Regions from separate parts of the Homo sapiens genome. Here region 1 is linked to region 2. The links come from fine-mapping of genetic effects on gene expression. A gene starts in region 2. The other region holds a variant in brackets. All regions are shown on one strand. Distances are between the middles of the regions.

What was found. PIP is the estimated chance that this variant, and not a neighbour inherited with it, causes the effect.
Region 1: its variant is the best candidate, but not a certain one, in a credible set for the expression of BCKDHA in whole blood (INTERVAL, PIP 0.59).

Annotation. Positions count from the first base shown.
Region 1 is chr19:41,416,254-41,419,049 of GRCh38, reverse strand. The region is part of intron 4 of BCKDHA (branched chain keto acid dehydrogenase E1 subunit alpha); the gene reads right to left. Among named protein-coding and RNA genes, the nearest start is that of B3GNT8, 9.7 kb to the left of the region's middle. The variant A/G (reference allele first, on the strand shown) is at 1,156.
Region 2 is chr19:41,396,561-41,399,356 of GRCh38, reverse strand. BCKDHA (branched chain keto acid dehydrogenase E1 subunit alpha) reads right to left here and starts at 1,539. Exons shown (of 9, transcript NM_000709.4): 1 at 1,422-1,539. The coding sequence starts at 1,529. It overlaps EXOSC5 (exosome component 5), which reads left to right and starts at 1,998. Exons shown (of 6, transcript NM_020158.4): 1 at 1,998-2,176. The coding sequence starts at 2,029. RefSeq lists enhancers at 684-1,355, 1,511-1,790, 1,356-2,028 and a silencer at 1,787-2,075.

The sequences.
Region 1 (2,796 bases), 20 kb before region 2:
GGCAGACAGGAAAGCTCAGGCTTGTTTTAAGAGGAAGACTGATGTTCAGACTGACTGACTCTGCCCAGCAAGGCCAATCTGATTTTTCAAAAGAAAGCAGAAATCTAGCCTTTTTCTTTCTTTCTCTTAGTGAGATATTGTCTGGTATTTAAGTGCTTTCAACTAATTCAATTACCTTTAAGAAATATTCTAACCATAAATCATTACTATGGCCAGGCATGGTGGTTCATGCCTGTAATCCCAGCACTTTGAGAGGCTGACGTTGGAGGATCGCTTGAGCCCAGGAGTTGGAGACCAGCCTGAGCAACATGGTGAGGCCTCGCTTCTACAAAAAAAAAAAAAAATCAAAACATTAGCCAGGCATGGTGATGTGTGCCTGTGGTTCCAGCTACTTGGGAGGCTGAGGCAGAGGATTGCTTCAGCCCAGAAGTTCAAGGCTGCAGGCAGCTGAGATCGTGCCACTGCACTCCAATCTGGGCTACAAAGCAAGACCCTGTCTCGAAAAAAAAAAAAAATCATCATTATGAACCAAATAACAGCATAGACCACTAATTTACAACTTCTGGACTACAGAAGTACTCTAACCCATGTATGGCAGTAAAACCTTTTCTTCAAACAAAACCTCTGGTGAACACCCACCTCCCCATCAAAGGGAACCGCTCCAGGTTAAGGGGGCCCTTCCTCCGAAGTTAGAAGACAGAAGGGGGTTTGTGATTGCCCTCAGACAAGCTCTTTGCCCCGCCTGAAGAGTGGGACAACCTTCACACCAACACTTTAGGGGCAGCGCTGTGGATCAATGCTGCAAGCACTCAGACCGGGAACATTATTCAGAGGGAGCTCTCTAGTACAGTGCTTTCCAAATCCTTTCTTTACCGCAGAACCCGCTCTTTAGATACAAATTTAATGGAGATCACATTACACACAGCAGTTACCTTTTTTTTTTTTTTTTTTTTTTTTTGAGACAGAGTCTGGCTTGGCCACCCAGGCTGGAGTGCAGTGGCGCAATCTGAGCTCACTGCAACCTCCACCTTCCAGGTTCAAGCAATTCTTATGCCTCAGCCTCCCAGATAGCTGGGATTCCAGGTGTGCACCACTAGATCTACCTAATTTTCTTTCTTTTTTTTTTTTTGAGACGGAGTTTTGCTCTTGTTGCCC[A/G]GAATGCAATGGCGCAATCTTGGCTCACTGCAACCTCTGCCTCCTGGGTTCAAGCGATTCTCCTGCCTCAGCCTCCTGAGTAGCTGGGATTACAGGCATGTGCCACCACATCCAGCTAATTTTTGCATTTTCAGGAGAGACGGGGTTTCTCCATGTTGGTCAGGCTGGTCTCAAACTCCCGACCTCAGGTGATCCACCCACCTCAGCCTCCCAAAGTGCTGCAATTACAGGTGTGAGCCACCACGCCCAGCCCACTTGTTGATATTTTAGTTAGAGTTGAGGGTGGTTAGCACTACTTCAACATCCAACTTTAATACAGGTTTACTGGTATTTTCTGACACATGCTTTTGAATGGACATAATACAAATCCACACAAGATGTGGCTGTGCTGCATATGTAACAGATAGAAACAGGAGTTGCTCTGGTTAAGGAGGGAAAGAAAGGTCTTGTAGAGGGTCAAAGAAGGTCCAAGGGACTGATACAGGACCTTGGAATCAGGCTTTCTCAGAATGTGGTACTAGGTCCACCCATGTGAGAAGGACTGGGCAGGGGCAGGGGAACGTGCTAAAAGTACAAACTTGTCAGGCTCAGTGGCTCGTGCCTGTAATCCCAGCACTTTGGAAGGGTGAGGCAGGTGGACTGCTTGAGCTCAGGAGTTTGAGACCAGCCTGGGCAACACAGCGAAACCCCGTCTCTACCAAAAATCAAAAAAAAAATTAGCCAGGTGTGGTGGCGTGCACCTGTGGTCCCAGCTATTCAGGGGGCTGAGGTGGGAGGATCACTTGATCCTAAGAGGCAGAGGTTGCAGTGAGCCGAGATCATGCCACTGCACTTCAACCTGGGTGACAGAGTAAGACCCCGTCTTGAAGAAAAAAGAAAATACAGACTCACAGGCTGATTTGCACCAGGAAACTCCAGGTCCAGTGGGAACTGCTGCTCTTGCTTGACACATGCTACCTCTTTTCTTGTTGGTCTCAGAGACAGGATCTTACTCTGTCACCCAAACTGGAGTTCGGTGGTGGAATCATAGCTCACTGCAGTCTTGAACCTCTGGGCTCAAGCAATCCTCCCACTCAGCTTCCTGAGTAGCTGGGACTACAGGTGTGCACCACCACGCCTGGCTAATTTTTTAATTTTTTAGAGATGGGGGTCTCGCCATGTTGCCCAGGCTGGTATCAAACTCCTGGGCTCAAGCAATCCTCCCGCCTCAGCCTCCCGAAGTGCTGGGATTACAGGCGTGAGCCACCACACCTGGCACGTGCTTCCTCTTAACACTCCTTTTCACCGGGCGCCACTCCCTGCCAGTGCCACCACTGATACTCCACATATAGCCCTGGGAAGACAGCCAAGGGTGGGAAACAGCGAGAGCTGTCTCTGGGTCAGACTGCCATAAAAAGACTCGGCTCCACTCCTTAGGAGAATGTGGCCTGGGCCCATGACCTCACCTTTGTTGACTCAGGTTCTTACCTGGCTTTTAGAGTTGATGGTAATGCTTGCCTCTCCTGCCTCACATGGATGGGGGAGGTGCCTCAATGAGGCAACACCACTGGGGCCTGCCCTAACCTCACCCGGTGTGCCCTCGCTCTGCAGTGCAGTGAGGGGAAATGACAGTCTCCGAGGCTAAAGAGCACATATAACAGC
Region 2 (2,796 bases):
CTCAAAAAAAAAAAAAAAAAAAAAAGTGAAAAGGTCTCCAGCCCAAAGGCAAGAGACTGCCCTACCCACACCTTGCTCCTGCAGCCCTTCTGTATTTACCTGTTTCAAGTGACTCCGTTCCTAGATACCTACTACGTCCTACTCCTGGCCCATCTTCTTCACCCTCCTCCCGTTTGTTCCCCTACCCAGAGCTTCTTTCTACAGATTCCATCTTCCCCTCCTTATGGATTGGGGATCAGAGGATCAGACTCAACCTCACAATATCTTTTCAGATTTTTTTCCCCAGGGCCTCACCAATCCAGGCCTTCCCAAGGTCACCCCTTTCTTCTCCCCATCTCCAAGGTTAGTTTCTGTCCCTTCCCTCCACCCTCACTATCAACATTCCTATTGCCCTTAGGATGTGCCAGGTCCAGTCCTTAGCATTTTACATATTGATTTTTCACAGCCCTATGAGGTGGCCACTGTTAATATTTTAGAGAGGAAAATTAGCTCCATAGATCCAGAGAAGTGCAGTCCGTTGGCCAAGGCTACACAAGTGGAAAGCGGCAGAGCAAGGACATGCATCCACCCATGTAACCACTACTCTCCTATCTGTCAACTGTAGTTCAAAGCTCTTCTGCAACCCATTGCCTCTCCCCGTCTAAAGATAGGCTTCCACCTAGGTTTTTTGCAGTGTAATCTTGCCCTTAGCAGCATCCACCTGAAGGGATTGTGACCCTTTTGACAAGAAACAAAGCCTTCTCAAGTGTTTCTAAGAAATGTGGGCAAAGTGCCCTGTCTGTACCTCTCTCCCTCCTTTTTTCCCCTCATTAATTCAACAAATATTAATCGTCTCCTCTGTACAGTGTCCAGAACACACGAATTCTCTGTCTTGATATTCGATCAAGAGACACAGGAATCAAACAAATTTTTTACACAATTCATTTTAAAATCAGAATTGTGGCAAAGGAGCAAAGAAATACAAGGCCCTATGCAGCCTGTGACAGGGACCTGTTCTCTTCTTTCTTCTTCTTGAAGAGGGATCTTTGCCCAGAAGAAAGTCCCTCCCTTACAAAGTCAGTTTCATTCTCCAAACCCTGAGGGAGAAGGTCTTGCGGTCTTCCCCTGTTCCTCCAAGGAGCCTCCCCTGAATACCAGTGGCAGCTAATAAGGAACCCCCATCTCTCTCTTCAAGTCGTCTCCCTCAGGGCCCACAAAGAAGTTGCAAACGGGTTTTTTCCTCTCCTAAAGAAGTGGAAGTTCTTTTCGTCTCCTAAGGAAGTGGCAGATCTTCCCTTCGGTGTCTTCTCCAAGGAGTCTCCCACTCTTTTTCCCTTTTGTGACAGCCCTTCCTTCATATCCTTCAGGGACCCCACACTCTGAAGATAGCCTTTACATCCCTAATCCCCTTTGGGAAAACCGCCTGGGGCCCAGGTACTCACAGATCTAGCCAGTCCCCGAGCCCCAGGCTGCCGCAGCAGCAGGAGGGCAGCCTGGCTCAAACCACGGTTTAGCCGCCAGACCCTCGCTGCAGCGATCGCTACCGCCATCTTGGCTAACAACCACTCAGCGGTCCGGCACTCACGTAGGCTAGATTCGGGGCTGCCTCTTTATGTGCCTGACGCAAACTCCAGCACCATCTGACAAGAAAACCATCTTCTTCCCGTTCTGTGGTAGATAGAATGCACAGAGATTTGGAGAAAAAAAAATCTATCTACCCAAAATTTTCTCCAATCGCCTCATTGTAGTTACTCCTGTAACAGGCAAAGAAGAGGGCAACCTGACCAGGGCCTCAGGGATTTAGGGCCCGGGGGCCCAGAGTAAAGCGGATCAATGCCAAGGCCTGCCTTCTGTTCCCAAATGTCCAATGGCGTTGCCAGAGTTAGGAGGTGGGACTGGGCGGAGCCAGATTGTTGGTAAACGCTAAGCCACGTGCGGACGCCCAGGAGGATGGCCCAGCCCGGCGCGTGCGCACTGGTTACGCAGCCTGTTTGCGGCGCGCGCTGCCAGGCGGAAGTGACAACTGCAGCCGCACGTGGGCTCGGCGCGATGGAGGAGGAGACGCATACTGACGCCAAAATCCGTGCTGAAAATGGAACAGGGTCCAGCCCTCGGGGTCCTGGCTGCAGCCTCCGGCACTTTGCCTGCGAACAGAACCTGCTGTCGCGGCCAGATGGCTCTGCTTCCTTCCTGCAAGGTAAGAACTTCACCCAGGTCTTTCTTTTGGAGAGGGACTACCGTGTACTGTGCAACCGAGTGCCCACCTCCTCACGATACCAGCTGGTAAATGTCACTCCTGCGTTGATGCATGATTTCTTGTCCGATTGAATACTACTAAATACGCAGGGATACACACATCTCTCCCTCACGACTAGAAAGGAGAAGATAGTTCCATCTTTGTAACTATCTCTGAGAATGAGAGGAGGGGCAGACTGTCCGCCCAAGAATTGATATTTCAGAATAGGGAAAATCACCTCGCCAGGGTAAATATCCCCCTTAACTCGATTCCTCCTCCACCCTCCCACCCCCACCCCCCACACACACACCCTCTAGGTCCTTGCATCCCGGACTGAAGCAAACCTGTCTATTTGCATACTGTGGACTGTGGCGGATCTTTCACCCACGTAAATACTCCTCAAATTGAAGATAATGTCATTGCGCTGGGTTGAGAAATACATCCCCACCGCTACCTCACTGCATCTCTCCACACAAGTAAATATCCCTAAGATTAGGGCAAGTCAAAAAAAAAAAAAAAAAAAAGATTAGGGCAAGTCTTACCTATAGAGCAAATATCCCCTTTTCCTAGCTAAATAACTC